Linked DNA regions of Homo sapiens: region 2 is reported to be linked to region 1. Evidence: microRNA targets listed by miRTarBase, many of them from high-throughput screens and not tested one by one. Region 1 holds a microRNA gene; the other region holds the end of a gene's coding sequence.
Evidence for each region. Region 1 holds the annotated microRNA hsa-miR-3615 (UCUCUCGGCUCCUCGCGGCUC, at 3,708-3,728, opposite strand). A microRNA usually pairs through its seed, bases 2 to 8, with sites in the 3' UTR of a target mRNA and lowers its output. Matches are read on the target gene's strand: a 7mer-m8 pairs with bases 2 to 8, a 7mer-A1 pairs with bases 2 to 7 and ends in A, and an 8mer does both.

Region 1 (5,517 bases):
GGAATTCGGACCCTGGGTGTGGTTTTGGGGGTAGGGAGGCAGTGGTGAGAACAGGCTGCCAGATGGAGAAGGGCCATGGAACAGCATATAACTCTTAAAAAAAAAAAAGAAAAAATTTAATAGAGACAGGGTCTTGTCATGTTGCCTAGGCTGGTCTCAAACTCCTGGGCTCAGGCGATCCTCCCACTTTGGCCTCCCAAAGTGCTGGGATTACAGGTGTGAGCCACCACACCTGGCCACAACGTATCATTCTTAACCCACAGTGACCATCGATCAGGCACTGACTGTGTGCCAGGCTTGGCCACAGTGGCATTTGCCCAACTAGGCAGGCTGACCCAGCGCTAGCTGCCCCATGATAGGTGTGCAATGATCACTATGAAATATGTATTCATTCCAATACCAACTGCAAAGGCTGGCTGAGCCTGGACTCAGTGCCAGGCACTGAGCTACGTGCTTTACACACAGCCTCATGCAATTCCGAGGTAGCTGCCATAACCCCCAACTTACACAAGAGGAAATGGAGGCTTACAGAGGTGAGGTAACTTGGCTTCGCACAGCCTGGCTAGTACAGCTGAGCTGGCTCGGCTCTGCCCGGCCGGCACTCTGAACCCAGACTCAAGGGTTTAGGCCTCATCCTGTGACTGGTGGTGAATGGGGGGAGGAGGGCTTTAAGCAGGGGAACAGCAGGGCGGGTCTTGCTGCTCCTCTCTCCCCACGGGGCAGGCGGGGAAGGCCATCCACAAAGCAAAGCCGGTGGGCAGAGCTGGAGAGCCACTTCCACCTCCTTAGGCCTAGACTCCCCAGCGGGGATGGCCAGTGTTACAGGCACCCCTCAGCCTCTGCCCTGAGTGGTTCTGGACACAGCTGGTCTTCCCAGCCAGAGGCCACCCAGCCAACCACTCTCTGCGCCACACTTTTCCACTGATATCATCACTTAGTAAGTGGAGGGCTAATGAAGACAAGGGAACAGCCCCACCTTGCACACAAATTCAGACTAAAACGAATTGGCAAACCTCCATTTGATGCTTTATGTAGGAAACGGGTGTGTTTTAGAAAAACGAACTCTTACAATGTCTGTTAACATTTTTTCTAATAACCACATGGGTGTCTGTATGCTCAACACACAGGATTGAGAGGAGAGGATTTTCTGCTAGAAGGACTCAATGGTGTTGACTAGGAGTCAGTTTAGAGGAGCTGGGATTCAAACGCCAGGCATGAAGGAGTGCAGTTCAGCATTTAGTAAGGGGCTCAAGTGCTTCACGTCATTTCTATAATTCTAGAGAAGGCAGGCATCACATCGCCCAATGCCTCCATCTCACAGATGGGAGAACCAGAACTCAGAAGTCCTGGGACTTGGCTGGTGATGGTGTCCCCAGGATTTGCTGGTGGCTCTCCTCTCATCTCCTGGCCTAACAAAGTACACACAAATGTAGGTGTCCCTCCAAAACATGCAGGAATCTGAGTCTGTGCTCACCCAGGAAGCTCAAAGCTGCTGCCTTTGCGCACGTGTGCTATGCCAGGCCTCCACGTTCGCCTCCCAGGCCCTCTGGCACCCAGCAGCATAACCAAAAGGGCAAAGGGAGGAGCTGAACGAGACTGCAACTTGTGGGGGGTGGGGGTGGGTGGGTATTTGTGTGGGTGCCAAAGTCCAAAAAAAAAAAAAAAAAAGAATGTCAAATCGATCGATGGACTCAGCACAAAGTTCACACTGGATTTCTGCCTGGGACTGGAGATCATCGGCCCCAACTCCCTGGCATCAACCTCCTTGCTCCGGGTGCTCAGATCCCTTCCCCCTCCCCTTGCCAATGCCAGCTTGGCAGGGGCAGGAAGTGGGAGCCTGGTGGCCCTGGCATTCCCAGCACCCAGCTCTGGCTGGACAGGGCTTCTGGTGACCTCACTTCCACCAAACCAGTTGATCCTCTAGGGCTTTGCCTTCTACCTTAATGCCGAACTGTGCCCTTTCTCTGTCCAGGAGGCTCCTCGTAGCCCCACGGACACTCCCATCAGACACTGCCACCAGGGAGAGCTGGTGGTGCAAGCTGAAGGGGTCCTGGGAGGCTCACGCCCTGCCCTACACAATGCACCACTCCACTCTCTGGGGACAGGAGGCTCAGCACAACTCCTATTTTGCCAGCTGCCCCTCTTGCAGCTGATCCAAACTGGGATCCCATGGGCAAACACCAAACATGGGCAAAAAGCAACCGGCCTGCTGGCTGTGTGGGCACCAGAGTGACCATGGCAAGGCCAGGGCAAGACCACCGGCTCACCGTGAGCTCCGCTGGCGCACACAGGGCCGTGAGCCCCAGGAGCTCTCTCTCCTCCCCATGGCCATCTTTTTCTTCTTCCAAGGTCTTTCCCCTTCCCTCCCAGATACAGTTCTAGGCGCTTACTCTTCACATTCCTGAGAATCGTAAATCCTCTGAGGTGGCAGAACCACCACTCCGAGATGCCTTGGCTCCTCCTCCCTGCCAGGCAACCCCCACACCGCCCTGAGATGGTGGGGCTTCCTCTCCCTTAGAAGTCACACAGGACTCCGGGAGGATGAAGTCCAGCAGGACTGAAGTTCAGGACACACACCGGCGGGCTGCGGAGAGGGCCTCCTCGCGCCGGGGCTCCACACAGGAGGAGTAATGCTATTCCTCTAGCTTTTGAAGTAGGAGTGGCGGGCGAAGCTGGCACCTCTGGGGCGGAGAGCCCTTTCTCCCCGGCCCATCTGCGGACTGGGGTGAACGAGGAGAGGGCACCAGGGAAGGAGCAGGATTGGGGGATTCCGAGGAACGGGAGCAGACACCCACAGACCCGAGGGAAGGGGGCTGGGTTCCCCTGCGCCGCCCTCCCAAAGGCCAGGGAACAAGAGGTGCAGGCGGCAAAGGCGCTCAAGCTCCCAGCACAGCCTGGGAAGGAGAGGAGGTCGCGGGACGCAGCCCCAGGCCTGCCTAGGATGTGTCAGGGCGCCTGGTCGGCGGGCGGAAGCGGTCTCCCCCTCGCAGCTCGAGTTTCAGAAAAACGACGGCGGGCGCGGGGCTGGACGGCCGGGGCACCTGGGTCTCTCCGGATCCTCCTCCCACTCCATGCCAGCCTGCGCGGCTTGGGCCCCGCTTACCTGCTCCGGGTGGCTCTTGTCGGCCTCGCGAGGCTCATTTTCGTTGCCAGCCCCCTGCACCTCGGCGGCGGCCGGCGGCTCGGCCTGCCCCGGCGCTTCCTGGGCGCGCAGCAGCTCCTCTCGGACCTGGACGCCGAGCTTCTGCAGCTGCTCGTCCGTCTCGGGGTCGACCACCAGCAGGCGCACGGCGTTGAGTGCGGCGCGGATGCGGCTCACCACCTGCTGGTGGGTCTCCTTCTCCACGTTTTCGCCGTTCACCTCCACCAGCCGGTCCCCCGCCAGCAGCCCCGCCTTCTCGGCCGGCGAGCCGGGCTCCACCAGCCGGATGTACTGGCCCAACTTGCCCTTCTCCCCGTGCAGGTGGAAGCCGTAGCCGTTCGGACCCTTCTCCAGGCAGCAGAGCCGGGGCAGGGGCGCCCCGGCCGCTGCGTCCGCGCTCATCTCGCCCTGCGACGGGTCAGCGGCGCGACTTGGGGTTCCGATGGGGACGGGACGGGACGGCCCAGCCCTTCTTCCCGTCCAGCGAACCGGGAGCGCAGCAGAGAAGCCCTGAGCCGCCGGACGGGCCAAGCAAGCAGGTGTCCCAGGAACCGTCGGCCGCCGCGAGCCGCGAGGAGCCGAGAGAGGACCACAGACCAATCCCCGCCCCGCGCGGCGTCTGAGCGTCCCAGAGTCCGCCCCGGCTCCTTACCCCGGGGGCGGGGCCGCGCTGAGGGTGGGGACCTCCGCGGGCCAATAGGGGGCTGCAGGCCTGGGCGCTCCGGCCGGGTGAACGGCGCCGGCCATTGGGAACGCGCGGGGCGGGGCCTGCGCTCGGCGCGGCGCCCCGCGGCGGGCGAAGACTAGCGCTCAGGAAGTGGAAGTGTTTGTTACCGAGCGGCCGGCGCTGGGGTGGCAGGGGCGGGGCTCGCCGAATTCCCGGTTCTGGGCGGGTGGGCCCGCCGGCTCCGGCCTGGTTTCCCCTACCTGTGGCGGGGAGTGAGGAAAGCCGGCCCTCGGGTAAAGGACCCTAACTTTTTTTTTTTTTTTTGAGACGGAGTCTCGCTCTGTCGCCCAGGCTGGACTGCCGTGGCGCGATCTCGGATCACTGCAACCTCCGCCTCCCGGGTTCAAGCGATTCCCCTGCCTCAGCCTCCCGAGCAGCTGGGGTTACAGGCGCGCACCACCACGCCCCGCTAATTTTTGTATTTTTAGTAGAGACGAAATTTCGCCATGTTGGCCAGGATGGTTTCAAACTCCTGACCTCAGGTGATCCGCCCTGGGATTACAGACGTGAGCCACCGCACCTGGCCAACGTTTTAACAGCCTTTAGCCAAAGCCTGGGTGCAGCTCCAGTTGAGAGGGAGCGGCTGTTGCCGGGGCAACTGCTCCCGCTCGGGGCAGCGAGGGCCGGTCAGTCTCGAGAATTAAGACGGAGGGCCTCCTCGGACCCTACAGAGTTGTTTGAATAACATTTTTCCGTTTGTGGGAACCCTAACCCTAATCCACTTTGTGCTGTCCCAGGACTCGCATAGAGGAGTGCAGGTTCTGATCCCTGCTGGGAAGGTGAGGGCTCCGCGGAGAGCCTGGGACCTCGAGGGGCAGCCCGCTGAAGACAGGCCATCTAGGGCAATAGCGTGGGCTTTGGCAGCAGCGTTTGGCTAGGGAGGTGGGGTGGGGAGAGGCAGGACAGACTCAGGTAATCAACCTCTGGGTACACGCCACAGGGAAAGGAGCCTTGGTTTTTTTTTTTTTTTTCCAACAGAAAAATGATTAGGACTGTAAAGCCTTCTAGCTCCCTCTTGCCAAAGAGAGGCTGGTCACAGAGGCGGGAGACAGTCTGTTGAGCGGGGAGCTGACCATCTGAGGACAGACACTGAGGAAGGAGGATGGAATGATTTTGGCAGTGAATGACAATTCCTTCAACAAGACCCCCCCCCCCCACTCACTTCAAAGAAACAGTGGACAGGATGTGCTTTCCAAAATACTGCAGTTTAATTCTGAAAAACTCAAATGCAAGAGGCCCAGAGCTGTCTATGGGATTGGATCTCCTGCAACCTGCCTTGGGCCCCAGAAGAGACTGGCAATGTCAGCCTCCTCCCTGCTCTGCCTGAGGGAGGCCACGGAGAACTTCCTTATCGGGCCCAAACTGGAGCCGCTGACTGCTCAGAGCAAGATTTCTGCCTTGAAAGCAAATGCAGTAGCCTCAGAAATGTGCAGCGCATACTTCTTCCTCCCCCTCTCCCCCTCCAGGCCGGCAGAGCTGCAGTAAAGATGCCTGCAGGTCATGACCTCATGTTTCCTGTCCACTTCCCATGGCAGGGATCGGAGCTTTGGGAGATATGTGACCAAGGAGGACACATGAACTTGCTACCCCTCTCTCTACCCCAGACATACCCACATGACTTTGTTTTACTCATATTGCATTGGTTTAA
Region 2 (5,000 bases), not on the chromosome of region 1:
AAATGTGTACTGCATATGCATCTTATATGTATTGATATTTTATATTAAACGTCTCCATCTTATCCTTATATTGGTGTTCTTAAAATTCTTAATGCGCTTTTTTTTTTTTTTTTTTTTTTTTTTTTTTAAAGGAACCTTAGTCATTTCTGCTTTATATTTTGAGCTATCAGCATTTGGGACCAATTCAGGTTACATTTTCCTTTTTCTGTCCTTTTTTAAATTGAAAATATTTTAGATCTAAAAAATCTTATTAAAATGTTATAGCAATAGTATTAATAAGATCTTGCTAAATAGAAAAGAACCCGTAATCCTGCCACCCTAACCTAATCAGCATTTTAAATTTTGCATACTTCCTTCAGGTCCTTTTTCTAAATAATTTTTTTATTACTTGGGTCTTTAAAAATATTTGAACTCACCTTTTTATGGTAGGGCTCAGGGTGAATAACTTCTGTGTTTCTTTTCTAGTCTGCGAAACTTGTATCTGTTTTAAAGAAGGCACTTGAAATTACAAAGTAAGTATGAAGACTTCTCAGATAGCTTTTTGTGAGTAAAACGGAACTGCTGTCCAGACGTTCTCAACTCCCTAGCTCCCATTTCAAGGAGTGGGAAAGGGTGGGTGTGGGATTTTCTTTCAGCTTCAGTTGTGGGGCAGCTGAGATTCTGCAAAGAAGCTTCCCTTTAAAAAAATTTTAGTTTTCCCTGTGCTCCCTCCTGAGGATAGGTTTTCCCTTGACATCCTAATAAGTTTAACTTACTTCTTTCCTATTCTATTCACAGAGCAAGTCATGTGACCCCTCAGCCAGAAGATAGTTGGATCCCTTTACTTATTAATGCCATTGATCATTGCATGAATAGAATCAAGGAGCTCACTCAGAGTGAACTTGAATTATGACTTTTCAGGCTCATTTGTACTCTCTTCCCCTCTCATCGTCATGGTCAGGCTCTGATACCTGCTTTTAAAATGGAGCTAGAATGCTTGCTGGATTGAAAGGGAGTGCCTATCTATATTTAGCAAGAGACACTATTACCAAAGATTGTTGGTTAGGCCAGATTGACACCTATTTATAAACCATATGCGTATATTTTTCTGTGCTATATATGAAAAATAATTGCATGATTTCTCATTCCTGAGTCATTTCTCAGAGATTCCTAGGAAAGCTGCCTTATTCTCTTTTTGCAGTAAAGTATGTTGTTTTCATTGTAAAGATGTTGATGGTCTCAATAAAATGCTAACTTGCCAGTGATTAAATGAGTGCCCTTCCAAAGTTTCTTTTTACCAGAAATACAGTGGATTGAGACTAGAACATTGCTTTCATTTGGGTTTGTAGGTTTAAAAATCTGATTCTAATCAGAAGTATATTTAGAACAAAACACTTTATTTATAAAAGATGACTCCAAAATTCATCTTAGTATTTCACCATGTTATATATTATTATCAGCAAGTCCTTCTGAATATTATCACAGATTACTCCATGTCTCTAAAATATATTGGCATTGAGCTCATTTGTTAGGTTTGCCCACCTTATTGAACAGATTTATTTTCCTTATACATACTTGTGTTGTCCTTGGTTACGTGTGTCCCCAAATGTAAATACCAAATTTTTATAAATCAAAAATTTTTTAGTGTGTAAGAGATTTTATGTAATTTTAAGGGCCTTTTCAGTTCATCCTTTTGCAAAACCATCACCACTTAATTATACTTTTGCATCAGTCTAGAAGACTGCATATTGGAAAGCAGTGTAAATCTATAATGATGTATATTCTGGTGAGCTGAATAGGGCATTATGCATGTCCTACAGGTCTCCGCCACCTCTCATGCCCATCATCTTCCTTTTGTAGGTGTAATTCATAACATATGCCTTTCTGCTGTCTTTAGGTATAATCAGCAACAGCAGTCATTCTTTGAGTGACTAATGTATACTTGGGGTTGGGGTTGAAATTCCTTAAGCCAAATGAGTTTTAGCTTACTGTTTTGAAGTGCCATTTTGTATTGTTAACAAGTGTCATGAAGGGAAGGAACTAAAATCAAACTGACAGAGTGTCAAGGCAACAAAATAACATAAACAAAATAATAACATTGTACAACAGTCTAGTTCTTTTATCCTTTCATATAGAGCCTATTTTTTATATACTTTTATATTTCTCTACTGGACCAAATTCATGTTATTAACATCAGACTTTAATTGTGGGATACTTAATGAATATAGAACTCTAATATAAAGACTTACCTCTAGCTGAATTATTCTCTCAGGTCCTGTATTGTATAACTTCGTTCAGTCATGTTTGGATCTTTAAGGATAATGATCAGGGAAAGCACTGATCAATGTAATTTTTTTTTTTTTTTTTTTTTTTTTGAGATGGAGTCTTGCTCTGTCCCCCAAGCTGGAGTGCAGTGGCACACTCTCGGCTCACTGCAACCTCCGCCTCCCAGGTTCTCAAGCAATTCTCTGGCTTCAGCCTCTCAAGTAGCTGGGACTACAGATGCACACCACCATGTCCAGCTAATTTTTGTATTTTTAGTAGAGATGGGGTTTCACCATGTTGGCCAGGCTGGTCTCAAACTCCTGACCTCAGGTGATCTGCCCACGTCAGCCTCCCAAAGTGCTGGGATTACAGATGTGAGCCACCGAGCCCAGCTTGATCAATGTAATTTTAAGATTACCTAAAAATTCCATTTTGGGATAATATCCCACTTCATCAGAAATATTAGAATGATTTAAGTGTTAGGTCCTTTCCCTTATCTGTAAGTTAATGAATGTATTAATGAGCAGTAAAATGGTTGCAAAAAACCTGAACCTGAACAATCTGAATGTACTCCTTAAAGGTATCTGAGCACCTTTTCAACCTGAATGACTACTCATTTATCTGATAAAGTGATGTAGTTTGGATATTCAACCCTGCAAACCTCATGCTGAAATTGGATTCCCAGTGTTGGAGGTGGGGCCTAATGGGAGGTGTTTGGATCCCTCATGAATGGCTTCGTTCCATTGGTGGGGTAATGAGTAAGTTCTCGCTCTATATGTCCCTCCCCCACCCCAGAGCTGGCTGTTAAAACGAGGCTGGCACCTGGCACTTACCCCTACCCCTCAACCCATTCTTGCCCTGTGATCTCTGCTCACGTTGCCTCCCTTCATCTTCCTGCATAAGTGGAAGCAGCCTGAAGCCCTCACTGTTTCTTGTACAGCCTGCAGAGCCGTGAGCCAAATAAAGCTCTTTTCTTTTAAACTACCCAGCCTCAGTTATTCCTTTATAGCAACACAAACACTGAGACGCAAAGTTTCTCTTCCTAGCACATGTTTGGTTTAGATTGTAGAACAAGGGTTGGCAGGAGAGTGGTGATAGAGCTGGAAGTTTAAGCTGATAGTTCAGGGGCTACCACGGTGACGCTTTTATAGTTGGTTAGGTTCTGGAACATGTTGCAGTCCACTTCCACAGTGAGTCTCTGGAGCCCCACATGTGTTGGCGTGAACTGGAACTTGGCACACATGGTGTTTTCAGGCCACACTGAACGGAATCTGAAATAAAGGAAAAGGCAGGTGCTAGTTCTGTCCCAGGTTCATTGCTCTGCTGGTCCCAGTGACTTTGATCCTTCCTTGCTTGAAGAGGTGGACCATGCAGAAATAAACATCTAAGTACCTTGCTATTAAAATGGAAGTGTTTATAAAGGAATAGAAGACAGGAGCCACCCAATGCTGAGCAACTGCATGGTTGAGAAGAGGTACATCCTAAGGGCTTCCAAGCTACATCTGTTGTTCCTTTTGTCATCTGTGACTTCCTTCTGGTTCAATTCCTGGTAATTGTATTGGAGTTTGTTTGGAAGAGTGATATGGTTTGGCTGTGTCCCCACCCAAATCTCAACTTGAATTCTATCTCCCAGAATTCCCATGAGTTGTGGAAGGGACCCAGGGGGAGGTAATTGAATCATGGGGGCTGGTCTTTCCTGTGCTATTCTCGTGATAGTGAATAAGTCTCAGGAGACCTGATGGGCTTATCAGAGGTTTCTGCTTTTGCTTCTTCCTCATTTTCTCTTGCCACCACCCTGTTAGAAGTGCCTTTGCCTCCTGCCATGATTCTGAGGCCTCCCCAGCCATGTGGAACTGTAAGTCCAATTAAACCTCTTTTTCTTCCCAGTCTCAGGTATGTCTTTATCAGCAGCGTGAAAACAAACAATACAGTAAATTGGTATGAGTAGAGTGGGGCATGGCTGAAAAGATACCCGAAAATGTGGAAGTGACTTTGGAACTGGGTAACAGGCAGAGATTGGAGCAGCTTGAAGTGCTCAGAAGAAGATGAAAATGTGGGAAAGCTTGGAACTTCCTAGAGACTTGTCGCATAGCTTTGCCGAAAATGCTGATAGCAATATGGACAATAAAATCCAGGCTGAGGTGGTCTCAGATAGAGATGAGGAACTTGTTAGGAACTGGAGCAAAGGTGACTCTTATGTTTTAGCAAAGAGACTGGTGGCATTTTGACCCTGCCCTAGAGATTTGTGGAACTTTGAACTTGAGAAAGATGATTTAGGGTATCTGGTGGAAGAAATTTCTAAGTAGCAAAGCATTCAAGAGGTGACTTGGGTGCTGTCAAAGGCATTCAGTTTTATAAAGGAAGCAGAGCGTAAAAGTTTGGAAAATTTGCAGCCTGACTATGCAATAGAAAAGAAAAACCCATTTTCTAGGGAAAAATTCAAGCTGGCTGCAGAAATTTGCATAAGTAACAAGGAGCCTAATGTTAAACCTGAAGATCAAGGGGGAAATGTCTCCAGGCCATGTCAGAGAACTTCATGGCAGCCCCTCCCATCACAGGCCCGGAGGCTCAGGAGGAAAAAGTGGTTTAGTGGGCCAGGCCCAGGGTTCCTGTGTTGTATGCAGCCTAAGGACTTGGTGCCCTGTGTCCCAGCCACTCCAGCCATGGCTGAAAGGGGCCAACATACCGCTTGGGCTGTGGCTTCAGAGGGTGGAAGCCGCAAGCCTTGGCAGCTTCCAAATGGTGTTGAGCCTATG

Region 2: miRTarBase lists CCNDBP1 as a target of hsa-miR-3615. The part of its 3' UTR that is shown has no 7-base or 8-base seed match.

What each region holds. Positions count from the first base shown.
Region 1 is chr17:74,746,874-74,752,390 of GRCh38, reverse strand. It overlaps MIR3615 (microRNA 3615), which reads right to left and starts at 3,778; the gene lies at 3,692-3,778. It overlaps RAB37 (RAB37, member RAS oncogene family), which reads right to left. Exons shown (of 9, transcript NM_001006638.3): 9 at 5,056-5,517. NHERF1 (NHERF family PDZ scaffold protein 1) reads right to left here and starts at 3,763. Exons shown (of 6, transcript NM_004252.5): 1 at 3,104-3,763. The coding sequence starts at 3,544. SLC9A3R1-AS1 (SLC9A3R1 antisense RNA 1) reads left to right here and starts at 2,524. Exons shown (of 3, transcript NR_187307.1): 1 at 2,524-3,328; 2 at 3,464-3,818; 3 at 4,848-5,517. RefSeq lists enhancers at 667-1,208, 2,700-3,325, 4,614-5,209 and a silencer at 3,530-4,219.
Region 2 is chr15:43,193,950-43,198,949 of GRCh38, forward strand. It overlaps CCNDBP1 (cyclin D1 binding protein 1), which reads left to right. Exons shown (of 11, transcript NM_012142.5): 10 at 466-512; 11 at 778-3,228. The coding sequence ends at 892. It overlaps EPB42 (erythrocyte membrane protein band 4.2), which reads right to left. Exons shown (of 13, transcript NM_001114134.2): 13 at 3,278-3,515. The coding sequence ends at 3,353. Among named protein-coding and RNA genes, the nearest start is that of CCNDBP1, 11 kb to the left of the region's middle.